4 linked regions of the Homo sapiens genome follow. The protein of the gene in region 2 purifies or fractionates together with the protein of the main gene of each other region. This does not show direct contact. Each region holds a gene or a part of one and is shown on either strand. Other genes may lie near its edges.

The links.
Region 1: the proteins of CTTNBP2 (region 2) and STRN3 purify together in Homo sapiens (affinity purification with mass spectrometry; 4 studies listed by BioGRID and IntAct, with this or other methods). This does not show direct contact.
Region 3: the proteins of CTTNBP2 (region 2) and STK26 purify together in Homo sapiens (affinity purification with mass spectrometry; 4 studies listed by BioGRID and IntAct, with this or other methods). This does not show direct contact.
Region 4: the proteins of CTTNBP2 (region 2) and MOB4 purify together in Homo sapiens (affinity purification with mass spectrometry; 2 studies listed by BioGRID and IntAct, with this or other methods). This does not show direct contact.

Annotation. Positions count from the first base shown.
Region 1 is NC_000014.9:30,911,375-30,918,403, reverse strand, and holds part of STRN3 (striatin-3), read left to right. Parts: intron 1-4,746; coding exon 4,747-4,880; intron 4,881-6,221; coding exon 6,222-6,397; intron 6,398-6,579; coding exon 6,580-6,627; intron 6,628-7,029. UniProt on the Homo sapiens protein: Calmodulin-binding scaffolding protein which is the center of the striatin-interacting phosphatase and kinase (STRIPAK) complexes.
Region 2 is NC_000007.14:117,786,436-117,793,464, reverse strand, and holds part of CTTNBP2 (cortactin-binding protein 2), read left to right. Parts: intron 1-683; coding exon 684-2,337; intron 2,338-7,029. UniProt on the Homo sapiens protein: Regulates the dendritic spine distribution of CTTN/cortactin in hippocampal neurons, and thus controls dendritic spinogenesis and dendritic spine maintenance.
Region 3 is NC_000023.11:132,068,302-132,075,330, forward strand, and holds part of STK26 (serine/threonine-protein kinase 26), read left to right. Parts: coding exon 1-22; intron 23-110; coding exon 111-268; intron 269-1,176; coding exon 1,177-1,362; intron 1,363-2,767; coding exon 2,768-2,916; intron 2,917-3,966; coding exon 3,967-4,060; intron 4,061-4,511; coding exon 4,512-4,574; intron 4,575-4,655; coding exon 4,656-4,792; intron 4,793-5,833; coding exon 5,834-5,858; 3' UTR 5,859-7,029. UniProt on the Homo sapiens protein: Serine/threonine-protein kinase that acts as a mediator of cell growth. Modulates apoptosis. In association with STK24 negatively regulates Golgi reorientation in polarized cell migration upon RHO activation.
Region 4 is NC_000002.12:197,540,045-197,547,073, forward strand, and holds part of MOB4 (MOB-like protein phocein), read left to right. Parts: intron 1-66; coding exon 67-109; intron 110-306; coding exon 307-393; intron 394-7,029. Other genes in the region: HSPE1-MOB4 protein, read left to right, coding at 67-109, 307-393.

The sequences.
Region 1 (7,029 bases), on a different chromosome or scaffold from region 2:
CCAAGTAGCTGGGACTATAGGCGCACACCACCATTCCCCGGCCAATTTTTTGTATTTTTAGTAGAGACAGAATATTACCATGTTGGCCAGGCTGGTCTCGAACTCCTGACCTCAAGTGATCTGCCTACCTTGGCTCCCAAGGCGCTGGGATTACAGGTGTGAGCCACAGTGCCCAATCTGTTACATTAAATATATATTACTTCAAAAAATATATGTAACTGTTACCTAAATTAATCATTTGAGAATAAGGCAGCATCATTATTCTTTAACTTGGTAGCAAGTATACGCTACCTAGTAATGAATTTTATAAAATTTGCCTAAACCAGAAATGTGTAGGAAATGAAAGTACTACTTAAACATTTTTTCCAAAATTGATTTTAGCCGAAGATATATGGGTATACTTGAATCATGTATAACTCTAAGTCTAGATATTTATAAGTATTAAATCTGAATTTTTAACCAAAGATTATTGTGACATATGAGATACAGTAATTTGGCATATGTATTAAGTTTAATTGATGTTATTGCCTTTGCTCTGTAAAGGGGATTTGTTTGATGTCCCAGTCAAAAAATTTTAAATACATCTTGTTCCCTTTTAAGATTTCCCTAGTGGCACAGTTTCCTTACAGTTAAATAATTTTGCATTTTTTCCCTCTCATAATTTACCATTTACTTCACTCACCTTAAAAAAAATCACTAAAGTAACAAAATCATTCAAAACAAAATGAATGAAAAATAAAATAGTGTCTGTTAATTTTTTCAGATCTCATTTCCACTATTGAGATATATTCCTGTTTTACTTTAGAAGTATTTTCTAAAATACACATAGCAACTCCTTTTTTTTTTTTTAATTTTATGCATTTAGTGGTGATTTTGCTTCGTTTTTGGTCTGTTTTGCCAAATATGCATAGTACAACTTGCTAAAATTTTTGTAATTAATGTACATTTAAAGTGCAGGTTTTGCAATTTAAGGCAAAGCCACGTTAGCAATGTGGACCCTTTTAAATGTTTCAAACCAATGACTTAACGGAAAAAGCCAGTCAAGGCACACTCTACACAAAAACCAACTTAGAACTCTCTATGTGTGTTTGTTTATGTGTTATGTGTGTGTTTTAAAGAAAGAATATAGGTCAGTGATCTGTTTCTTGATGCTGGTAGGAGGGCGAGGGGAGAGATTTGATAAGTGTGAACTTCATTACAGTTTTTGAAGTATCGATCTTCCTGGAATTTGTTATTTAAAGAGGTGTGAGTTTGACTTCAAGCTAAGAAGGCAGCTTTGGAGTATACAGTCTCCTTATTTTCAGTGGCAGTCCCCAACTTCCTTCTTTACTTTTGAAGTCCATGTCCTACCTCATTTTATAAAGAACAAATGTCTGTTTTCTAGGAGTGGAACTTCAACATTACAATCTTCTAGACTATTGCTGCTAAAGACTTGAGACCTACCATGTTGCCACTGGTATAAATGGAATCTGTTACCTGGACTAAGTTCTTGGGAAAAAGAGTTCAATATGCGAGCTACAGGTTTCCTTCATCATAAGTGTCCATCAAAAGGAAGATTAGTTACAAAAGTCTGAAAAAGACCTTGTATTTTATAGACCCGTTATACTAGTATTGTTATCTTACTTGATGAAATCTCTTAGGCCTCCTAAATTTCCATCATTAAATTAAAAACTAGGGCAGGCATAGTAGCTCATGCCTGTAATTCCAGCACTTTGGGAGCCCAAGGCAGGAGGATCACTTGAGCCCAGGAATTCAAGACCAGCCTGGGCAACATAGCAAACTCTGTCTCTATTAGAAAAAAAAAGAAGATATTAAAACTACTTTTTTTAGGCCGGGCGCGGTGGCTCACACCTGTAATCCCAGCACTTTGGGAGGCCGAGACTGGTGGATCACGAGGTCAGGAGATCGAGACCATCCTGGCTAACACGGTGAAACCCTGTCTCTACTAAAAATACAAAAAAATTAGCTGGGCGTGGTGGCGGGCGCCTGTAGTCCCAGCTATTCAGGAGGTTGAGGCAGGAGAATGGCGTGAACCTGGGAGGCAGAGCTTGCAGTGAGCCGAGATCGCGCCACTGCACTCCAGCCAGGGCGACAGAGCAAGACTTCAAAAAAAAAAAAAACCAAAAAAACTACTTGTTTAAATAATTACATTTTTCTTTGAATTACTAATGACATTTTTATATTATGGGTAATTATATTACCATTAATAAAATGAATAGGATAGAAATTAATTCCCTCTGCAGGGAAATAAGGGCAAACAGATGAGTAGCTGCTGTGATTACCATATGCCACAGTGATGGGTAATATGGAAAGCAGAGGTAGTAGTGTAAAAGAATTTTTGCACATATATGTGTAAATAGTGATTAAGCAGAATAGCTTGCAATAGGTACATAAATATGTCATAAAATATATGTGTGTATATAGAGAAAAAGGACAGAAATGTGGTCATATGATTAATTAGAAATGAGTATAATACTAATTTTTTGTTAAGTACAATTAAGCCAAAACTCGAGTAAAACTAATGTCCAGACACTTCCCTTCACATGCTCCTAAATTGGTCTGGCTGATCAGAGATAGTCTTGCAAAATCATTTGTTACGTTAAAGTTATTTTATTGGGCTTTTGAGATTTGTGTCAGTGAATGTTTGTATAATTGTGAGTGGGAGGAACTGTGGCATTTTGTTCTGACTTCTCTTAGAAACAAATTCCCTGAGCTTAAAGTAAAAATATTTCTTTGTCTAGAGAAAAATGCTTTGAGTAAATATTATATAATGACTTTTATATAATTATCCTTAAACATAAGTTTAAATTATTGATTTTATAGTTTTTAGCTGCTTCTGGTATTGCCAATAACTGCATACTAATAATTGGTAGGAAAAGATCAAAAGATCAATGCTACAGATTATTCAGATTCAATAAGTGTCATCATTGAAAGATTAAATACTACTTAATATCTCTATATATTTTCTGTCAGGTGCTTTCAGATTCATTTTAGATCAAGTAACTGAATCAGAGCTGCATTTTAGAGCCCTATTTGAGTCAGATTATATAGCTTATTTTGATAGGATAAAATAATAAAATAACAAGATATTCTAAGTACAGTTGAATTTTATTTTGCCATAGTATATATATGAATTGTGTCTTCTCAGAATTATTTCCAGTAGTTTAGTGATGACTGTCAAGTTTCATTACACCTGTTGTGTTTCCTGTAGCATATTTATATCATTTTTCATGGGAATTTTTTTAAAATTGATAATCAGCTTGATTTTTTGTATAATGTGTCCCTTTTAAATTTGCTCATGAATTTTAAGTGTGTTTTGATATATTGAGTTTTATATTATGATTTGAGTATTTCTCCCTTGTTATCTTAATGTTAAAATTTTGCTTTCAAAGCATATTTGAAATGATATTGAAGGTTGTTGCTTAAACTATGACTGTTACAACAAAATATTTAGATAATAGTCATTCAATTATGGCAGAGTTTAATTGGTCAGTAGTATGTATAGAAAGGAAAACGCATTTTAAATAATTGGAACTGTTAATATTAACATGAAAAGCTGTAATAATGCACATGATATAGTTGAGAAAACTAAGTGAAGCTCAACCTGAGTTTAGTTTGAAATTGAAATGGCAAATCTGATCAGAAATTAAAGCTCTGTGGTCAAGATTACTTGCTTCATTTTAGAGTGTCATGGTAACTAGAATGGGACATTAAAATAAAAGTCATAGTCAAAGCTTTAAAGCTGGAAGACAGGCTGGGCGCGGTGGCTCACGCCTGTAATCCCAGCACTTTGGGAGGCCGAGGCAGGTGGATCACTTGAGGTCAGGAGTCAAGACCAGCCTGGCCAACATGGTGAAAGCCCATCTCTACTAAAAACAGAAAAATTAGCCGGGCGTGGTGGCGGGCGCCTGTAATCCCAGCTACTTGGGAGACCGAGACAGGAGAATTGCTTGAACCTAGGAGGTGGAGGTTGCAGTGAACCGAGATCGCACCACTGCACTCCAGCCTGGGCGACAGAGCAAGACTGTGTCTCTAAATAAATAAATAAATAAAGCTGGAAGACATTCTGAAGACCACGTGGATTAACCTTTTATAGAAAGGAAACTGACATTGTTGGTGGAAGAATTTTTTCCTAGACCATTGCTGTTACTAAAGGAATCTGAACAATTAAAGCTTCATTCTAGTGAACTGATATAGTATATAGCTGACTGTAAACCATTTACATTTCAATGTTTGTACTAGTTTTTATCAGGGACTAGGATGCCTAGTACTTCTTTAGAAAGCAAAAGGACTTGGTGACAACCTATTAACATTTAAAAAATACTATATGACTACTTTGAGGTCCTTGAGGTCCATGGTAGAGGTTTCCCCTCATGAATGCAAAAATCTGATATTTAACTCCATTATTTAATCAAAATTTGTCCTATTTCTTATTTAACATGTAAACTATAGTTATAATTGTACTGAAGTGATAAGAGATTTAGACAGACAAAGCTTTTGTGCCCTAGCTTCCACCCCAGAATAATATATCTAGTGCACATTTTATTTGTGGACAGTTAATACACCACAGTTCCAACACATTTGTTTAACACTGCTTAGTAACAGGATTTTTTGAGTAGAAGTGGGAAAATAAAAATTAATTATATTACTGAATATTGTAACTGTTAAGTGCTTAAATTTTCCCCACAATATTGTCTTGTACTGTATGATTTTTCAGCATTTAAGAAGCGGTTTTGTTCTTTATAGCTGAACCAATAACGTTTCCATCTGGAGGAGGCAAGTCATTTATTATGGGTTCTGATGATGTTTTGTTAAGTGTACTGGGCCTTGGAGACCTTGCAGACTTGACGGTAACAAATGATGCAGACTATAGTTATGATGTAAGTGCAGTTTTATTTTTAATTTTTTAATGATTTAATAGAAGGCTCCTTATTTTTTGGAATCACTTATAAAACAGAATTAATATCAAGGTGCATGGAAAAGATAAGTTTGTGTCAATGTGTTGATTTGAAGTGACATGTTTTTCTTTTATAACTACTCTCTTTGTGGTATTTAAATTTTTTTTTTAGGTATTTTGGTGGATTAACTAGAAGTTTGAGATGATTAATATATTGGTCAGTAAATACATCTTGAGTAGTCAACTCTCAATTATCTCAAATTAAGCCATATTTTGGTGTTAACAAGAAAAAAAATAACCTGAATCATATATTTGCCTTCAGAGTACTTCTTAAAAAGCATGTTTTATTTTTGAACTTTTATTTTCTTAAGGAAATATTTTAAAGTTTCTGAACATTTTAAAGTTAGCTTGCATCATTTCCTGAATACTTAACTCCTTCATTAGAGGATTGGGGAGTGGATGGAAGGGTTGGGGAGTGGGGAGTCCAGTGTTAGAGGTGAAACTTGTCTTGGATTTAATTTTTTCTAGTCATTAATATTTCAATTGAGAGTTAACTATACTTGTTAGATCTTTATGTTAATTGCAGTTTTTCAGCAATTTTTTTTTCTTTTTATAATGAGTTTCTTTTTTCCACGTTTTATACTTAACATTAGCATGCTTAGAGACAGCCTTTGGTGGGCTGGATTATTCTCATTAATATATTTTTTTAAGTATATAAGTGACTAAATTCCAGTAAACTTTTGACTGCTTTAGAAGTGGTTTCACAGCCTATCTTTACAGATGGAGAAATGTGAAGGTAAAAAGATAAACCTCTGTCAATATCAAGAATTATGAAAATGGGATAAAAATATTCTTAAAGGGTCTTTAGTTCAGACTTTCAGAAAGTACCTTAACTTGCTGCCTTTAATAATTTCACATGCTAATACGTTTTCTAAATGACAACTTTACTGTTAATACTGTACCGTTGGATATTTGTAATAACTTATGTAATTATTTTTCATGTAAAGTATTGCAGCAATGGTAGTTATTTTGTTCTCATCTGACATTTAATGGGAGCTTTGGGTTTAGCTTAATAGGTAAAAACAGATTAAGGAACTCTTCATTTGACCTAGGCTATTTGTAAGGCGAATGAAATTATTCTGAGTTATTATTAAATGATAAAGTTTTTTTAGAAAGTTTTAAAGGTACATTAAATTTCCACTGGACATTTTAGCCAACAGTTTTAAATATATGTGTTAAACACACCAAAAAGAAACGAACAAACACTCCACATGCCTTCCAGTTTACTACTTTTACCACTAAATATTGTGCTCTTTCCTTTTAGTTGCCTGCTAATAAAGATGCCTTTCGAAAGACATGGAATCCCAAGTATACACTACGTAGCCATTTTGATGGAGTACGGGCATTAGCTTTTCATCCTGTAGAACCTGTGCTGGTTACTGCTTCTGAGGACCATACCCTGAAACTTTGGAACCTGCAAAAAACAGTTCCTGCCAAAAAGCAAGTATTTTAGTGTTAGCCTGGTGTATTTCTTCCAATTTTGCTAATATAAGTAATTATTCCTCATTATTGTTGCATGTCTTTAATGCACACATTTGATCTAATGACTATTTAATATCAACCAGTGATTCATAGTTATTTAATTGCCTTCTCTTCCCCTACCCTTTTTCCCCCTCTTTTAGGAGTGCCTCTTTAGATGTAGAGCCTATCTACACATTTAGGGCCCACATGTAAGTTTTACTGAATTGGTATTTAATTAACATCATCATTATTGTTAAATATTATTTATCGGTCCTCAAACCTTGTAATTTTCTCAATGTTTTGTATTAGAAAAGATGTATTACTTGAATAATAGCTATTTAATAATTGTATTGGTGAGACTATGAATATAATAGTACCATTCAGGCCAGATGCAGTAGTTCATGCCTGTAATCTGAGGATTTTCGGAGGCTGAGGCGGGCAGATCACTTGAGGTCAGGAGTTCGAGACCAGCCTGGCCAACATGGTGAAACTCCGTCTCTACCACAAAATACAAAAATTAGCTGGGCATGTTGGCGTGCGCTTGTAGTCTCAGCAACTCAGTAGGCTGAGGCAGGAGAATCGCTCGAACCTGGGAGGTGGAGGTTTTACTG
Region 2 (7,029 bases):
CCGGGCATCCAGCGAAGCTAAGGGAGTAAGCAGGATCAAAGTAGGAGACAAGGTCAGGCTCCAGGTTCACTGACACCAAATGTAGTTCTAATAAGATCGTTCTTTAGCTCTTTAGAGTTTTCAAAGAACTTTCTTTCATATATAATTTTATATGATTTCCACAACAACTCATCATAGGAAGCTCAAAGATGTTACATTACTGAGATAGGTAATACAATTAGCAAACATGGGGGCTTAGAATTTAACTGAAGTCCTCGGTTTTCAGTACTTTTCATGATACTTTACCTCAGAGATTAATAATTTTAAAGCATTAAACCTTTTTTAAAAATATCACCAATTCCATCACAGAGCTGTGTTTTTACAAAAATAGACCTTTCTGATCCCTGTGCTGTGATTTAAAGCATCTGGTTATTGTTCTCTTTTTCTGTAGTTAACTTCAATAGACTTTAAAAATTCTCTATTGTTGTAATTTAGATGTCTTTATAAAGCCATTTACGTCTATTTTCTCATTTTAATGTGTCTTTAAAATATTTCTTATCACAACACTTTTTGAAAATGTGGCGTTTTTGCTAACCCGAGTTATGTAATTGTTAGAAAATTAATAAAAATCTCACAAAAAGCATTTCCTTGGTGAAAAGAAAATTCTGTATATTAATCAGGGTTTTCCTGTGAATTTCTTTCAGCTGGAAATGGAGAAGCTTCAGCTACAAGCCCTTGAGCAAGAGCACAAGAAGCTGGCTGCCCGCCTTGAGGAAGAGCGTGGCAAGAACAAGCAGGTGGTCCTGATGCTGGTCAAAGAGTGCAAGCAGCTCTCAGGCAAAGTCATAGAGGAGGCCCAGAAGCTCGAAGACGTAATGGCCAAACTGGAAGAGGAAAAGAAAAAGACGAATGAATTAGAAGAGGAACTCTCCGCTGAGAAACGAAGAAGCACAGAAATGGAAGCTCAGATGGAAAAACAACTCTCTGAGTTTGACACTGAGCGGGAACAGCTTCGTGCCAAGCTGAACCGGGAAGAAGCACACACCACTGACCTCAAAGAGGAGATAGACAAGATGAGGAAAATGATTGAGCAACTGAAAAGGGGAAGTGACAGCAAACCAAGCCTCTCTCTTCCACGGAAGACAAAAGATAGGCGTTTGGTTTCCATATCTGTGGGAACAGAAGGAACTGTGACAAGGTCTGTTGCATGCCAGACAGACCTAGTGACAGAAAATGCTGACCACATGAAAAAGTTGCCTTTAACCATGCCTGTAAAACCTTCCACAGGGAGTCCCCTAGTTTCTGCAAATGCAAAAGGGAGCGTGTGCACCAGTGCCACCATGGCCAGACCAGGTATTGACAGGCAGGCTTCCTATGGTGACTTGATTGGCGCTTCTGTACCCGCTTTCCCACCTCCAAGTGCAAACAAAATTGAGGAAAATGGACCAAGCACTGGCTCAACACCAGATCCAACCAGTAGCACACCCCCACTTCCCAGTAACGCTGCCCCTCCCACCGCTCAAACACCAGGCATAGCTCCTCAGAACTCGCAAGCTCCACCTATGCACAGTTTACATTCACCATGTGCCAACACCTCTTTGCATCCAGGTCTAAACCCACGAATCCAAGCAGCTAGATTTAGATTTCAGGGCAATGCTAACGACCCAGACCAAAATGGAAATACTACCCAAAGTCCTCCGTCAAGAGATGTCTCGCCTACAAGTCGTGACAACCTAGTGGCCAAACAACTAGCTCGGAATACTGTGACCCAAGCACTGTCAAGATTTACAAGCCCTCAAGCAGGTGCTCCCTCAAGGCCTGGAGTGCCCCCAACAGGGGATGTTGGCACCCACCCTCCAGTTGGTCGGACCAGTTTAAAGACTCATGGTGTAGCACGAGTTGACAGAGGAAATCCTCCTCCTATCCCTCCAAAAAAGCCAGGGCTCTCCCAAACTCCTTCTCCACCACACCCCCAACTCAAGGTTATTATAGACAGCAGCAGGGCCTCGAACACAGGGGCCAAAGTTGATAACAAAACTGTGGCTTCGACTCCTTCCAGTTTGCCACAAGGGAACAGGGTGATCAATGAGGAGAACCTTCCTAAGTCATCCTCCCCTCAGCTGCCACCAAAACCATCCATAGATTTAACTGTGGCACCTGCAGGCTGTGCCGTTTCAGCCCTGGCCACGTCTCAGGTGGGTGCCTGGCCTGCTGCAACCCCCGGACTGAACCAACCTGCATGTTCAGACAGTTCCCTTGTCATTCCTACCACCATTGCCTTTTGCTCTTCCATAAACCCCGTTAGTGCCTCATCCTGTAGACCAGGTGCCTCAGACAGCCTCCTGGTAACAGCATCAGGTAAAGGGATTGAAATGTTATACGCTTTTTAAAGAATATGGCCTCTCTTCTCACTTGCCTTGATTTTCTTCACATTGCCTTGAAACTTTTTTTTTAAATTTGATGCTTCCCCCCACCCCCATTTCTTTTCTTTCTCTCTCTTTTTTTGTATTTTTTTTAAAGGCTCCAGGGTATGGTGATTCATCTTGCTATATGAATTGCGGTTTCGCTATGCTAAGTGCTTTCTTCATTTAAGATAACCTGAAAGTAGTGGCTTAAAGCACATGGAGACCATTAATTTAGAGAGACTAAAATATTTACATGGGAGAAAAGAGTATTCCTTCTTATTAAATATTTATCTCGCAAGACCTCAGTGGGTCATGATCAGACAGTACGTGTTCAATTCTGTTCCTTCTGAGATGACATTTTTAAAGACCTTTCAAGTAATTATTAACACTATGTTGGATTACCAAATTGACTAGATTTGTTCCGTAATTGGTATATTTTAAGTTCTAATATCAGTTTGGTGTTTTCGGTTTTTTTTTTTTTTACCTTCAGAAATGGAGTGTGAATATTTATAAATCTGTTCTAAGTTTAGTTTATTTCAAAAGCCATGTACCCTATTTAGTGCTGCCATCTTCCAACACTCGGGCACAGATGGTTAACATAGCATGTGGGCTATGTCACAGAAGGTTTCCACTGCAGGTGTGGCTTATGAAGTCACTGAATCTGGGACTCTTGAACAAAGAAGAGGTGGATTTTTCCCTTTTGTTATACAGTGCTAGAGAAAGCATTGCTTTTTACTGACATGACTGGATTAGTTATTTACTAAGCAAATGTGGCTCTAAAGTAATGTTACCAAAAATACATAATTGTAAATGGCAGAGACTGGATTCCAAACACATCTGACTAACTGCAAAGTCCATGCTGTTTTCAATTCCCAATTTTACCCCTCAAAATGTGGATGACAAAGTTCTGTTGACACTTTGAAGAAGTCTCTCCTACCATGGGATCTTAGTGGTTGGTGGAGATTGTTGGTTCAAATGGGAGAGAACTTTTATAATTACAGGAAGGTTTGAACAGTTGTTATATTTAATACTTTGAGGGGAGAGAGAGAAAAGCAAATAGCATCATATTTGCTAATTATCAGGTGATGACAGCAGTACACTAGGATTTATTTGTCCAATTATAAGCTATCAACTTGAAATTAAGGTCTTTGAGAGGCTTTATCCATATTTTGAGGGGCGAAATAGGGAATTGGAAGCAGCATGGACTTGGAAGTTAGATCTATGTTGAAATCTAGTCTCTGCCATTTACAATTGTGCATTTTTGGTGACTTCTTTTGCTACTCATATGGGGGAGGGTGGCTGTTAGGAGGATTGGATCCTATAACCTGTCAGCTTGGTATTGAGCTTAGAATAGCATGAGTAATCAATAAATAGAGGTGATATTACTGCTTCAATGATATTGTTGCTTACAGTATTTTTGAGAATTTGCTATGGAATTGACTTTAGTATTATTTTGAGATGTCTTTACAGGCATTCAGCATTCTATATTTTTGATCCAAAATGGTATTACTGAGTTGAACAGCTTTTCTCGTGGCCTAAAATAATTTTGGCTGTTTCTTACAAATTAAATCCACCCTCAGAGAGGAATTTTGCTACTCAGGAGAATAGAGAATGTACTATAAGATCTTTGGGCAGTCACAAAACACAAGTTCCAGAAATGTGTGGAGCAGTGGCAGTGCTATTGCCATAAATGCATAGACTGTAAAGTAGAAAACACTTCCTAGGATATAGAAGTTTTGTCACTTAAAAAAAATACAAAGCCATCTTTACTTTGAGACCTTGAGGCTTTGCCACTTGTTGCCTTAGTCATTACTGTGGTCCTGGGTTTAGCTGCATGTGCCCTTTGGTTTCGGCAGAGAAGCTTTAAAACCAGGATCTATGACTGAGGAACATTTTGTCAACAGGATTGAAAAGTTAACGGATTAAAATCTGTTAACTTTTAAAGACAGAGATTTACTAATCTATTATCTATTCACCAGGATATCCTGCCCTAGGATTCAGTAAAATTTTACATAAAAGAGCTATAACTCCTCTGAAAAATGCCCTTCACTTATGTCTGGAGAGCAAAAGACAATATAGACCAGAAACCAAAAAAAATACCAGCGACTGAAGATACGGAAATCGGATTCCTTATTTTCTACTCTCTGACTTTTGCAATTTTACCAAAGTATTTTATTTATTTATTCCTCTCAGAACTTCTGAATTACTTTTGGTAGAATAACCAGTTTCTATGTCATTTGCTTAGAAGATGTGGCTTATTAAGGGAGAACGGAGGCACTGGAGGCCTTGAGTCATTCAGCAAGTGTTTACTGAGCACCTAGACTGGGAAATGGAAGTGTGATTACACTTACACAATGGGGGTGTACGACTCTACAACTCAAGTATAAATGTAGTTCAGCTGATCTTTCCAAATAAGATAGAGGATTTCAACTCTGTTTTGCATTTAGATTGCCCCTATTTTCGCCACTGTGACCATTGCAACTAAGAAACACCAGAGCTGCCTCCACCCTGCTTACTAACCTGTCTGTGCCTGGTTGAGCTTGTGCCTCTCCAGGTCATGAGCCCTTTGAAGGGGATTAACCTTCCAAACAGCCACTGATTCCATTGTGATTGCCCAAAGCAAGGCACAGGGACAACACACATCTGTCAAATACCTGGCAGGTGTCTCTTCCAATTTCAGTGATCAAACAAGCACTGAACTAAGTATAGTAAGGCAGGATTAGTCCATTTCTGCCCCTTTCTAAGTATCACCCTAGAGAGCTAATTCCCTCTGAGCCATTAGCTTTTTCATTTAAAAACAAAAGCATTGCTGGCTGCAGTAATCATACCTGTAATCCAAGCACATTGGGAGGCCGAGGCAGGAGGATCACTTGTGCCCAGGCGTTCAAGACCAGCCGGGGCAAAATGGCAAAATCCCATCTTTACAAAAAATATAAAAATTAGCTGGGCATGGTAGTGTGTGCCTGTGGTCCCAGCTACTCAGGAGGCTGAAGTGGGAAGATCACTTGAATTCGGGAAGTCAAGGCTACAGTGAGCCATAATCATGCCACTGTGCACCAGCCTGGGTGACACGGTGAGACCATGTCTCAAAACATTAAACCAAAATTATATAATAATATTCCCGAACAAAAAAAGATTTAAACTTGCATGATAAATTTTCAAACTACCTCTCCCTCCTTGGAGAACTACTGGCCCATGATCTTTCCAACTCTAGAATCCTGTGTTTCCATGTAAGCTTTTATCTATAAAAATTATGACTAAGTTAGAGCCCCAAGGAAAATTGGAATGACAGAAGTTAGCCTTTTAATGAATTGTAGTATAAATTACCCAAACTCTATTTGGCAACCTTTATAGCCAAATGTTAAATTTTTTAATAACATTCTTAATTCTAAATGAACTAGAATTTCTTGTTCCTCCTGAACTTGCCAAATAGACACATTTCAAATGTTAGATGAACAGAAGCCTAAACCAGAAATCACTCCAGGCAACTGAGTTTCCATACCCTTGGAAATTGTTTTTTCTGTTTTTTCTTTTTTTATTTGATACATTTGATTTAATTTGGTTTACACCTTTTCCCTATTGAAACATATCTTTTAAAAATTATCCTCCATGTATGATTGGCTTAAAGGCTAAATCAGAAAACAAGAATGATCTGGGCTATGACATTAACCTTCTCCACCCTCTGAAGCTGATGCCAGAAGCTGTTCTCACTCCTTCCCTCTGCCATTGCATGTCCAGTCATTCCCTTCCTCCTGGCATGTTGTGCAGGATGCTCACCTTACTAATGTTTGCGTATGACACTGCAAAACTGATTGACCTTTTGCTAACATCATTAGAGTAGCTGTATGAATACCGGTCTGTTCTGTCTTAACCACTATTTAACCTCTTAACTAAGTATTACCATTTTTATGATTGTCGGGAATTTCAGATGAACAGTATAGTCTCATGATGAAGTCCTATTTTTCCCATATTTAGGCAGGATTTATTAAAATAAGCTTGTCTATGCTAGACAACATTGGAAATGTTAGTGAAGATATAAAACATATTTACAGTTTTAAAATACTTGGTATTTATAAAGCATTTTTCTTTTGTAAAGATTTTAAAAATATATTGCAGACCTCTAAAAAAATAAGGCAACTGATATATCTTCTGTAGTTCTGTGTAAGAAAACCCTTGAGTGGTCTAAAGATTGAAAACAAATTGAAAAAAAAATTTGTCTTTCGGATAACTTATTAAAAATAGGGTTTCCCAGGAAATTACAGCTGCAATTGAATATTTCCATATAAGGCAGTTGAAAAATATATTTAAACTGTCTCCTCCCCTCAAAAGCCTAGATTTATGGTGAAAAAAGAAAAATGTAAACAAAACCCAAAAGAATAGCAAACCATTTACATATATTGGTATTCATAAAAGAATATCAACAACCAAGACCCCTTGGATGAGATCTAAAGAGAGAATGAAAGAGAGGCTGAGTATGAGCCCCATTCCCTCCTGTTCCACAGAGGACTGTAGTGCGATGCCTTCATATTGCCTGTGTTTGCTTTGCAGTCGAGGTTTTATGCCTTCGTGTTTATAATTTCTCTGTTTATGCATTTCTAATAAGTACTGATTTAATTTTTGTGGGCCTGTTTTTTGTTTGTTTGTT
Region 3 (7,029 bases), on a different chromosome or scaffold from region 2:
AAAATTCACCGAGACATAAAAGGTATACAAAAGTCTAATATGAACCTGAGAAAAATAGAAGCATTCTGAGCAAGCTGAGTTTTTTTTTGCTTTTCTTTTTTTCCTCCTAGCTGCCAATGTCTTGCTCTCAGAACAAGGAGATGTTAAACTTGCTGATTTTGGAGTTGCTGGTCAGCTGACAGATACACAGATTAAAAGAAATACCTTTGTGGGAACTCCATTTTGGATGGCTCCTGAAGTTATTCAACAGTCAGCTTATGACTCAAAAGTAAAGTATTACCTGTACAAACTGTTTTGGGCTTGTTAATAAATTATATATGGCACACTATCCTAGTTAATACACTGCCTTATTTTTCCTTGTTTCACAAGTGTTTCTTAAGCTAGAGTTATGTCATATTTTGCTGCTTAATCATAAATTCCCTCACAGCTAACTAATATTTGGACCCTATTCACTTCAATGGCTTTTCATCCCACGTGGAATAAAATCCTAAGTCCTTTCTGTGACATATAAAGCTCTACACAATCTGGCCATTATCTGCCTTTCCAGTCTTATCTCCTACCACTCTCTTCTAGATTATTCATCCACAGTGGCCTCATGGTTGTTCCTCAAACATAGCAAGTACACCCTGGCCTCAGGACCTTTGCATGCCCTTCCCTCTGTCTGAAAAAACCTTCTTCCCACAATCAGGTCTTTGCTTAAATATCACCTACGCAGGGAAGTCTTCCCTGGCCATCTTATGTAAATTTGCAACACCCTTCCCCCCATGATTCATTATTCTCTTACTATGCTTTGTTATTTTCTTCACAGAAGTTAGCACCGTCTGGCACCATATTATTTATTTATTTATTGTCTTTCTTATTAGAATGTAAACCCCTTAAGAGCAGGGATTTTTGTCTGGCTTATACACTACTGAAATCCTCCATTCCGAGAAGGGTACCTGGCACAAAGTATGGAATTCATTATGTTTTACATAAATGAATTCTACTAATAAAAATTTATTAACACCACATTTTCTTGAGAGACAAGTACTGTATAGCCATTAGGTTCCACAGACTATTTTGTGGTAGTATATTGGAATGGAGTTTCAAGGTGATATACATACATACACATATATATATATATATATATATATATATATATATATATATATTATTTTCTTTTTCCTTTTACGTTAGGCTGACATTTGGTCATTGGGAATTACTGCTATTGAACTAGCCAAGGGAGAGCCACCTAACTCCGATATGCATCCAATGAGAGTTCTGTTTCTTATTCCCAAAAACAATCCTCCAACTCTTGTTGGAGACTTTACTAAGTCTTTTAAGGAGTTTATTGATGCTTGCCTGAACAAAGATCCATCATTTGTGAGTATATATTGCTATTATTACTATTTGTTTTCTATTATTAGATCTACTTATAGCAAAGGCAGCTTTTCCTGCAGTAGGGAATACAGTGTATGTGAGAATTGTCTAAGATCCATCCAGGAACCTGGTTCGTCCTTCTGTATTGCTATTTCTATTGAGTTCTTAACCAGATTCTTCATTCTTTTTCTCCTTACCCTTCGTTTTTTTCTTGATCCTCAGCTTCCTCCTTATTCTATTCATTATTTCCTCTTTCAGGGGGAAATAAATTTGAGAAATAAAGTTAACTTTATATTATGTCATTATTAAAGTGTATGTATAAATACAATGATTTTTGTTCAACTGTTTTCATTTTTCATGAAAAGTTATATTTGGGTTTAACTATTTTTTTTTTTTGAGATGGAGCCTTGCTCTGTTGCCCAGGTTGGAGTGCAGTGGCATGATTTTGGCTCACTGCAACCTCCAGGTTCAAGCGATTCTCCTGCCTCAGCCTCCCAAGTAGCTGGGATTACAGGCACCCGCCACCATGCCTGGCTAATTTTTGTATTTTTAGTAGAGATGGGGTTTCACCATGTTGGCAAGGCTTGTCTCGAACTCCTGACCTCTAGTGATCTGCCCTCCTCAGCCTCCCAAAGTGCTGGGATTACAGGCATGAGCCACTGTGCCTGGCCAGGTTTAACTATTTTTATTTGGTGTTTAGAAACTTCAATGTGAAGTTGTATACTTTTCCTAGGCTAGTGAGCTCCATTCATTTACTTGGTGGATTCTATTACAGTTGTTTTACTGTTGTTGAAATAAAGCTGCCTTGTGACTTTTTGAGACGAGAAATACACAAGAGCAGTCCAAACTTGATATAACTATTTTTAAGTTGATGATAAACATTCTCATGTTAATAAAATGAAGGCGGAACATCCTCCACAGCACCTGGTGTTTGCATTTAGATGCAATAGACATTGATTTGTGATGGAGAAGGGATTATATGTGTAGATAATAACAAAATTACAGCCTTGCAAGTTTTCATCAGGTTTTTTCAAATTTACAGTAAATGTGATTAAAGTATTTTAGAACACTACTTTGAAATGTTTTTAAATGTTTACTTTCTAAATACTGTCATGTGTCTCTCTGCTTTTGAGAAGGCCCTGCCTGCCAGTTTGCTGGTGGGTAAGCCACCTGCTGCCCGTTGGGCTTTAACAAATTGGGACACCAAAGTAGTAGATTCAATGTGGTTGCCTTGAGCCACTTCAATAATAGAATTAGCTATTTTCCTACAGCATTTTAGTTGTTCTTATGTCTACAGACATACCTTTATACCTTTCAGCTTAATAATTCAAATGATTTTTTTTACCATTCCTTGTAATCATAAGAGTTCAACAATTGTCATATGCAGCCTTGATCTTTTTATCCTTAGCGTCCTACAGCAAAAGAACTTCTGAAACACAAATTCATTGTAAAAAATTCAAAGAAGACTTCTTATCTGACTGAACTGATAGATCGTTTTAAGAGATGGAAGGCAGAAGGACACAGTGATGATGAATCTGATTCCGAGGGCTCTGATTCGTATGTACAAATTATTTAATTTTTATGTAGGCAGCCTATTTAAATATTGTATATCTTTTAGCTATGCTCCAGTGTGCTTGTTCTAGCATAAAATATAAACCATATTTTGAAATTTCACCTTAGAAACTGTAAAAATCTTTTTCAATCACAGTCTGTGGAATACAATGGAGTTGGAAACATGTTTTTCTTGGAAGTGAATAGCTCTAGTTTTAAATGGTCTTGGTCTAACCCCTAGTGGATACTTGAGTATATTACAAAATTTTGGAACAGGATTCAATTAAAGGTGTTATATTAGTTTGCTCAAAGTAATAAGGAGCTGTGTTTTCTCATACTTTGATGGCAACCTGCAAAATCCCTCTAAAGAACTGACCTCCAGGCTTTTCCCACCTCTTGGCCATGTACCAAACCAAGATCAGACTGATACATTTAAATATTCATTTATGCATGATTTTTATTTCTTGAAAAAGTTGTAGGGTTTTATAACAGCAGCGTTTACATTAAAAATTCAGCCTCTAAGTCTGTCAATTAATTTAGACTAGGAAAGTCTGTATGCTATGCCAGAATTTAGTCCTCCACCAGCTGAACTGGCACAAAGGCAACACCAAATTTCTTTAGATACTACTCTGAGATTCTTCCATTTATGAGAAATTGTCCAATGTTGGAAAGGGATAAAAAATATCAGAATAATTTGTGCCCTATTCTAATGGGTGTTAGCCTTAGCTTCCCATAAGAGTCACTCATGGAACCTTAAAGCAATCACAAGCCACACCACTGGAGATCCTGATTCAATAGGTGGGGAGTAGTGAGGGACAGGTATTTATCTATGGTAGGAGGTCTCAATGAAGCACACACAGAGTTGAGAACCACTCCACTACTACTCTGTAGTAAAATGTAGTATTCGCCTGAAGCTGAGATCAGATGCTTTTTTGCATCATGAGTTTTTAAACATTGGGACAATTATCCCTTTAGATTCTACCTGCATTGATTTGGTATTTTTGCCAAGCTGAATCATTTGGGCACTTATAGAGGTATCTTTGGCAATCTCTTTAGGGAATCTACCAGCAGGGAAAACAATACTCATCCTGAATGGAGCTTTACCACCGTACGAAAGAAGCCTGATCCAAAGAAAGTACAGAATGGGGCAGTATGTATATGGAGACAATTACTTACTCTTCATACAGTTTTTCAAACCATGTAGTGAGATGATAATGGCCTAAAATTGTTAGGATTGAATACCCCTAAATGCCTGTCTGCCTCACTGTGTTTGTAGTATGCTTCATTTGTCATTAGTTTTGAGCTAATTAAGAAAAGTTAATAGAAGTTATTTAAGTGGCCATATTGGTATTTTTTAAGTGCATTTCACCTGGAGATACATAAGCCCAGGGAATCATAGGTATCTATTGTAATCCCAGAAGTTAGAGGACTTCTGGATGATGAATGAGAATGAATGATAGGAAGAAAGCTTAGAGACTTGCCTTGCATACAATCTTTTGTTTTCAGTAGGGGATTCAAATTAGTTCGTATTTGTTAAAGAATAAGAAAATCATGACACTTATTTTAATTTCATGTGTATAATCTATATTATTTGTTCAAAGGAGCAAGATCTTGTGCAAACCCTGAGTTGTTTGTCTATGATAATCACACCTGCATTTGCTGAAGTAAGTACAGATTAATTAGCCTTGGATATCTGTGTTAAGTAGTATAATATTTTAAATGTTTTAACTATTATTCTTTCTCAGCTTAAACAGCAGGACGAGAATAACGCTAGCAGGAATCAGGCGATTGAAGAACTCGAGAAAAGTATTGCTGTGGCTGAAGCCGCCTGTCCCGGCATCACAGATAAAATGGTGAAGAAACTAATTGAAAAATTTCAAAAGTAAGTTGGAAATGTCATTTTAAAAATTATTTTGCATTTTCTGTTGTATGTTAATTTATGATGCAATGTAATTCCTTTGATTCAACCATTCCAATTATTCCTAACAAAGTCACCTTTCAATACATAGTTGTATACTTAAAAATAGTTTTTGTCTGTTGTCTATCTTAAACATTAGCTTTTAGAATGATTATCTTTAGGCATGACAAGGTAGTTTTCCACTGCATGAAATGACCTGTTTTTCTTTCTCCACTAGTAGGATTATAGACAAAAGGTCACTGAGCATATTCTCATTTGAGCTCTTATTAATATAATTGTGGAATGCTTTCTTTCTTGCCACTACCCTCAGAATTTAACAAAACACCACTAGTTGCATAGTTTCCAGTGCTAAAGTTCCTACGTTTGATCTCCATATGAAAAGTTAAGGAAAAGGTAGAGGGACTCAATCCAGACCAAAAAAGGGCTCTTATGTTCAACTTCAGTTTCTATGTTGTCTCTTGAAATATTCATTTGATTTTGTTCGCATTCAAAAAAGTTCTTACATTTAATTTTTTAAAAAATTTTCAACAAGACTTTTGTATGCATGCACACATATACACTCCTTAGCTCAAGCAAGCTATAAGGTGATACTGATTTTAGCCTTGACCCTGCTATATCTCTTCTCAGTGCATCTTTATATTTCTTTGTGTTTGTGATGCCACTGGGATCGAGATGGAACAAACTCTGTGACCTGTGAAATCACACACTCTCAAAGATCTTTCTATCTGATAAGGCTCACTTGTACTCGCAAACCTAACCCCCTCTTAAAATCCCTTATATTTTAATGAAAACCCCCCATTTGAAAACAAATCAATCGGAAGTTGTGAAATCAGATGCAGAAGGGATTTTTTAACTTGTTTATATTTTAACATCTACATGATAAGATTCAATAGAAACAATGTATCCCTTTTGTGGAATCAGTTTCTTCATTGCAGAGTTCATACAAAGGAGAAATATAAACATGCATAGTTGTACATTGGTTTAAATTTTTTAAAAATTTTATAGGTGTTCAGCAGACGAATCCCCCTAAGAAACTTATTATTGGCTTCTGTTTCATATGGACCCAGAGAGCCCCACCAAACCTACGTCAAGATTAACAATGCTTAACCCATGAGCTCCATGTGCCTTTTGGATCTTTGCAACACTGAAGATTTGGAAGAAGCTATTAAACTATTTTGTGATGGCGTTTATCATTTTATATTTTGAAAGGATTATTTTGTAAGGAATAACTTTTAATACTATAGTTTCACCTGTATTCTAGTAAATGTTGAGACACCGTTTTGCTTTTAAGTATCCCTATTTCTTAAGTTACGAGGATGAATACCTTTCACATTTTGATCTTTAGTTGACTCTACAGTCATGAAACATACAGGTCTTTCAAAGTCATTCTCAATATTCAGCTTTTGTAAATTATCAAGCTTCAAAAAGCTTTTTTTTTTAAAAAAAAACATGCATATTCTAAAAATGACTATTGGTGGGGAGGTGTAAATAAGTCATACCTTCTTAAAACAGAAAATTTAAGTAAAGTCTTTTAAATGAAACCTGTAAAAGTATTGACTCTTCTACCAAGTTGGTATGATATTCCAGGCAGCTCAATGATTATCACATTTGAGACCCTGTGTTTGAAGCATTTACAGGCAATGTACAGCAACAGAGGTACCTCTTGGTGTATAGTATTTACATTCTCTTTTAGGTAGAAGAGGCAATTTTACCCTTATTTCACATGGTTAGAAATTTAAAGCAAGATCATTTACCCAAGGATAGGTGTTTGGTAATGTTGAAGGAGTTAGTCTGGCTTCATGTTTTACATCTTCAACTAAAATCCCATACTATCTGCTTGGATTTGGAGAGCCAAAAAATAAAGCTGATTGTCATGTGATTAAATATCTGATCAACAGGTATGAATATAACTTAAATCAGCATATTTTTGCCATGGTAATAAATTGTCCTATAAACTATTTATATATTTTTGTTCTTCATAATTATCACTAATAAGCATCAGTTTGTTGTTTTTAAAAGGATATTTAAGTGAGCATTTTCTAGTTCATATGAAAATAACCATAGTACAGGATGATTTCTGTCCACACAAAGGTTAAATTAGATTGCACAGTTAATTTTCACTTATATTTATGGTACTATTATGTGGGTGATGCCTTTTTCTTTTAAGCCCAGTACATATATTATGCCTGCCTAAGTTCTGA
Region 4 (7,029 bases), on a different chromosome or scaffold from region 2:
GCTAATATTCTAAAAATTGCTGTGAAGAATAGATATGACTTTTTATTTATGTATTTGCATTTTCAGGCAGTTCTGCCTTGAGCTAAATGGACTTGCTGTCAAACTTCAGGTAATATTTTCTTTAAGTCAAAGTTATAATTGAAAGTTCTGATTTTTTTTTCTCTGTTTTTATAACTTAATGTGCTTACAAAAACGTATCCACATTTCTAACTTTCTTCTAGAATTTATTATGGAAATATAGTAACCTAAATGATAAGCTTTTTCATTATTATTTTACATATTAAGAAATATAATTATTTTTAACAGAGTGAATGCCATCCAGATACTTGCACTCAAATGACAGCAACTGAACAATGGATTTTTCTTTGTGCAGCTCATAAAACTCCAAAAGAGGTGAGGATTTATGAAATAGAGTAACTAATAAAATTATTATAGCCTAAATCTCTCTCAAGACAATGTTAGACAAGTTTTTAGGGTTTTTAGTTCACTGTTCATTTTGCTATTTCATTTTGAGTTGCTTGTTGTGAAGTTGTTACTGCAGTGCTATTTTAGGATTTCTTATGATAAGCATCATTTTTCATAATTGGGCAATTACATGGGCTAGAACTCACTTCATGATCCACTGGCTATTACGGATTAACATCTGTCACATTGTGCTGATATCTACTGTGTAATGATTGAGATACGCCTGTTTAGGTTTTTGTTCAGATTATTTCTTTTGATAGGAAGAACTATTGATTACTCTGATGCCTAGTTTAAGTAGAAATGTTACTTTTGAGCTTTTAAATATTCATGTTGTTTTTCTCCTTATTTAGTTTTTGTCAAGGTAAGACTATAGGCAGTAGCAGTTTTTTGTTTTGCTCTTTTTTTTTTTTGAGATGGATTCTTACTCCGTTGTCCAGGCTGGAGTGCAGTGGTATGATCTCGGTTCGCTGCAACCTCTGTCTCCGGATTCAGGAGATTCTCATGCATCAACCTCCCAAGTGGCTGAGATTACAGGCATGCGCTATCATGCCGGGCTAATTTTTATATTTTTAGTAGAGATGGGGTTTTGCTATATTGGCAAGCCTGGTCTCAAACTCCTGACCTCAAGTAATCTGCCCACCTCAGTCTCCCAAAGTGCTGGGATTACAGGTGTGAACCACTGTGCCTGGCCTACTGTACTTTTTCTTATTTAAAAAATTTCTTCATATCATCTGATACCCAGTATACTTTTCCTTAGTTGTCTCCAAAATGGTCTTTACATCTGGGTTGTTTATGCATTGCTTTTCCCTTAATCTGTATTCCCATTTAATCTGTTATAATTACTTTTTACTTGACACTGACTCACTGGGGATATTGGGTTAGGCCAATTCTGTAGAATCATAGACCTTGAAGTGGTCATTATATTGATAGACTTCTAAGGCTTGAAGACAAGTGAGGCCCTAGTTGCAAAATCAATATCTGATGTTTTTTGTTTCAAAAAGGACAAATGCTCCAAAATAAGGAGTATTTGATACCTAAGAGAATAGTACTTATTTGGAAGACTGGTTTCATTCAGGATGTCACATTTTTATGTTAATTAATTGAAGCAGTATTAAGATTGTATCTGTCGGCCGGGCGCGGTGGCTCACGCCTGTAATCCCAGCACTTTGGGAGGCCGAGGCGGGCGGATCACGAGGTCAGGAGATCGAGACCATCCCGGCTAAAACGGTGAAACCCCGTCTCTATTAAAAATACAAAAAATTAGCCGGGCGTAGTGGCGGGCGCCTGTAGTCCCAGCTACTTGGGAGGCTGAGGCAGGAGAATGGCGTGAACCCAGGAGGCGGAGCTTGCAGTGAGCCGAGATCCCGCCACTGCACTCCAGCCTGGGCGACAGAGCGAGACTCCGTCTCAAAAAAAATAAAAAATAAAAAAAATAAAAAGATTGTATCTGTCTACATCTGGGAAAATCCACATAGTGGTTTCATTGATAATTCACTGAAGTTGGCTACTTAACGTAGTGAATGATGTGATTATTGCAATTAGGAAACTGAATCAAGAAGGCTGAATCAAGGCTAGTTTTGTTTTGGCAAATAGTAATGATGTATTATTCTTTCTTTAGAGTGGAAGTGATATCCAGTTTGTGATGTGTTATGACTCTTAAATATACTGTCATTCTCATATCCACTTCTTTCTTGATTAATATTAAATGACAGGATAGTCATTAGCATTAAGACCTGTAAATTGAGTCTTAGAATTGCAGCATTGCTTGCTGAAGTCCAGATCTGTTGAACTGGCCATGTGTCAAGGGAGGGTGATAGTAGGATTTCCAAGTGGTAGTTATATTGAGTGGAGTTACTGTAAAAATACAAACAAAAGAACAATTTGAAAGGACACTTTCTGAACTGTTTTTGAATAACTGCTTAGTCAGGAAACTATAGGAACTGACAAACTAAGCTAAGAAAATTGCTCTCATGGATTAAAATCACTAGGGAGATTCTGAAGTGGGAGCAGCAGAATACTTAGCACCAATAATCATTTATTCAGTATCCTTGAGAATTAAAGAGAGGCATTCAGCATATAGAGTAAATTATACAAATAGTGCTTCTAGGCGACAAACATTATAACTTACTGTCTACAAGCCCTCACAGTCACATGCTGATTGTGATCACTTGCAGTAGCATTATGATTATATATTTGGAAAAATATAATACATAAAAATTTGTAAACACCATTACATAGTATTTTGTAACCTGCTATATTTTGCCATTTTTTGCTGTTATAACTGTTACAGAGTAGGAATAGTTACCTGAGAATTAACTGGGGGAAGGTGAAGGGAAGGCAGCTAAAAACAATGCAAAATGTCATCCAAATTAAAAATTCAGAAACCAGTTAAAGGTCTAAAGATACAGTGATGTGGTAACCCATGAGCCCCATGTAGCTGTGTAGCACTTGAAATGTGGGTAGTCAAAATTGAAATATGCTGTAAACACAAAATAAATACTGGATTTCGAAGACAGTAACGCCTGTAATCCCAGCACTTTGGGAGGCCGAGGCAGGTGGGTCACCTGAGGTCAGGAGTTCGAGACCAGCCTAGCCAACATGGTGAAACCCCATCTCTACTAAAAATACAAAAAATTAGCTGAGTGTGATGGGTGTGCACATGTAGTCCCAGCTACTAGGGAGGCTGAGGTGGGAGAATCACCTGAGCCCAAGGACTCAAGGTTGAAGTAAGCAAAGATCACACCACTACACTCCAGCCTATGTGACAGAGAGAGACCATGTCTCAAAAAAAGATTCAGAAATGGCCAGTAAGCACATGAAAAGATGCTCAACATTAGTTATTAAGGCACATCTCAAAACCACAGACAGTTGGTGCGAGGGTTGTGCGTTATTGTTATGCTGATTAACATTGTCTCCTCCACAACCATGCTTGATAAGGGAAAAAAAAAAACCACCGTGAGAATGGAGAAACAAAATGTAGCATGGACATACAATGAAATATTATAAAACCATGAAAGGGAATGAAGTTCTGATACATGCTACAACACAGATGAACCTTTAAAATCCAGTATGTATTATGTGGAGTGAAACAAGTCAGATGCAAAAGGACAGATACTGTAGCATTCCACTTATCTAGAGTGAATAAATTCATATAGACATTTGAAGGTAGGTAGAAGCTGCCAAAGGATGGGCGGTATGGGAAGTTAGTGCTTAAGGGTAATAGACTTTTTTCTTTTCTTTTCTTTTTGAGACAGAGTCTTGCTCTTTTGCCCAGGCTGGAGTTCAGTGGCGCAATCTCGGCTCACTGCAACCTCCGCTTCCCAGGTTCAGGCGATTCTCCTGTCTCAGCTTCCCAAGTGGCTGGGATTTACAGGCATGTGCCACCTCGCCTGACTAATTTTTGTATTTTTAGTAGTGACATGGTTTCACCCTATTGGCCAGGCTGGCCTCGAACTCCTGACCTCATGTGATCCGCCCACCTCAGCCTCCTAAAGTGCTGGGATTATAGATGTGAGCCACTGCGCCCAGCCGAGTTTCTTTCTTTTTTTTTTTTAAGAGACAAGAGTTTCGCTCTGTCGCCCAGGCTGGAGTTTCACTCTGTTGCCCAGGCTGGAGTGCAGTGGCACAATCTTGCCTCACTGTAGCCCCCACCTCCCAGTTTCAAGCAGTTCACTGCCTCAGCCTTCTGAGTAGCTGGGACAACAGGCGTGCACCACCATGCCAGGCTAATTTTTGTATTTTTAGTAGAGACGGAGTTTCACCATGTTGACCAGTTTGGTCTCAAACTCCTGGCCTCAAGTGATCCACCTGCCTTGGCCTCCCAGTGTGCTGGGATTATAGGCATGAGCCACCATGCCTGGCCATAATAGTTTCTGTTTGAGAGTTGGAAACAGTGAAGATGGTTGCACAATATTGTAAATTAATGCCACTAAATTGTACATTTAAAAATGGTCAAAATAGCTGTCTGGGCGCGGTGGCTCACGCCTGTAATTCCAGCACTTGGGGAGGCCAAGGCGGGCGGATCACGAGGTCAGGAGATCAAGACCATCCTGGCTAACACGGTGAAACCCCATCTCTGCTAAAAATACAAAAAATTACCCGGGCGCTGTGGCGTGTGCCTGTAGTCTCAGCTACTTGGGAGGCTGAGGCAGGAGAATGACGTGAACCCTGCAGACGGAGCTTGCACTGAGTGGAGATCACATCACTGCACTCCAGCCTGGGCAACAGAGTGAGACTCCGTCTCAAAAAAAAAAAAAGGGTCAAAATGGAAAAATTTGTGGTGTATATATTTTACTACAATTTTTTAAAATGTTAAGAAAAAAGCATCAAAACCCCAAATGGCATATACTTTCATACCCACTATAATGGCTAAAATAGGAAAGATAGACAATAACAAGTGCTGACGGGGATGTGAAGTGGAACCCCTAAACATTGATGATGGGATTGTAAAATGCTTCAGCTATTTCAAAAAACAGTTTGGAAGTTCCTTAAAATGGTAAGCATAGAGTTGCATACGACCCAGGAATTCCACTCCTTGATATGTAGTTCCCCCAAAATGAAAACATTTATCTGCACAAAGACTTGTACATGAATATTCACAGTCACATTATTTATGATAGCCAAAAAATGGAAACAACCAAATATCCATCAACTGATGAATGGATAAGCAAAATGTGTTGCAGCCATCTCTCAGTAGCCTCAGAGGATTGGTCCCAGGACCCCCATGAATACCAAAACCACAGATACCAAAGTCTCTTATATAAAATGGCATAGTATTTGCATATGACCTATGCACATCCTCCTATATACTTTAAATCATCTCTAGATTACATATAATACTGAATACAATATAAATGCTATATAAATAGTTGTTATACTGTATTTCTTAATTTGTATTATTTTTTATTGTTATGGGGTTTTAAAGTGTAGTTTTGATCTGCAGTTGGTTGAATCTGCAGATGCAAAGTGCTGACTGTATGTGTACAATGGAATAATATTCAGCCATGAAAAGGAATGAAGTCTTAAAGGGAGAAACATACAGTACGGCATTTTGTATATATTAAAAACATTAAAGGCTAAAAAGTTTTGAATTTTAAAAAAAGGAATGAAGTACTGATTCATACTACACCATGGATAAGCCTTGAAAACATAATAGAAGCCAGACACAAAATGCCACTTATTATATTATTTCATTTTAATGAAATATCCAGAATAGGCAAATCCTGTGAAACAGAAATTAGGTTGGTTGTTGCTTAGGGCTGGGGGAAGGAGAGAATGGGAAGTGACTGCTAATTGGTTCAAGGTTTCTTTTTGGGATGCTGAAATGTTCTGAAATTTAGTGGTAATGGTTGCAGAATTTTGTGAATATACTAGAAACTACTGAATTTTTAAGAGTAAATTTTAGTTGTATCAATTATATCTTAAAAGTCAAAAAGTAGCCCATTAATTTTATATCAATTACCTGCTGAAATGGTATTATTTTGGATATAGTGGGTCAAACTACAATATTAAAATTAATTTCACCTCTTTCACGTTACCTTTTTATTTTTTATTTTTTAATTTTTATTTTTGAGACGGAGTCTCACACTCTTGCCCAGGCTGGAGTGCAGTGGCGCGATCTTGGCTCACTGCAAGCTCCGCCTCCCGGGTTCTTGCCATTCTCCTGCCTCAGCCTCCTGAGTAGCTGGGACTACAGGTGCCTGCCACTGCGCACAGCTAATTTTTTGTATTTTTAGTAGAGATGGGGTTTCATCGTGTTAGCCAGGATGGTCTTGATCTCCTGACCTTGTGATCCACCTGCCTCGGCCTCCCAAAATGCTGGAATTATAGGCGTGAGCCACTGCGCCCGGCCTCACGTTATCCCCTTTTTAATGTATCTCTTAGAAAGTTAATTAATTAATTTTTTGAGACGAAATCTTACCCTGTTATCCAGGCTGGAATGCAGTGGCCTGATCTTGGCTTACCTCCCTTGACCTCCTGTGCTCAAGCAATCCTCCTGCCTCAGCCTTCTTGGTAGCTGGGACTACAATCATAGTGCCACCATGTCTGGCTAATTTTTCAAATTTTTTGTAGAGATAGGGGCATTTCCCTGTGTTGCCTAGGCTGGTCTTGAACTCCTGGACTCAAGTGATCTTCCCACTTTGGCCTCCCAAAGTGCTGGAATTACAGGCGTGAGCCACCACATTGGGCCTAGAAAATTTAAAATTAAATATATGGCTTGCATTATACAGTTGACCCTTGAACAACTCCGGGATTGGGATCCCAACCCTCTGTGCAGCTGAAAATCTGAGTATCTAACTTTTGACTCCCCCAAAACTTAATTACTAATAGCCTACTGTTGACTGGAAGCCTTACCGATAACAGTCGATTAACACACATTTTGTATGTTCTGTGTATTATATAGTGTATTGCAATGAAGGAAGCTAGAGAAAATGTTATTCAGAAAATCATAAGGGGCTGGGCGTGATGGCTTATGCCTGTAAACCCAGCACTTTGGGAGGCTGAGATGGGAGGATCGCTTGAGGCCAGGAGTTCGAGACCAGCCTGGTCAACATAGTGAGACCT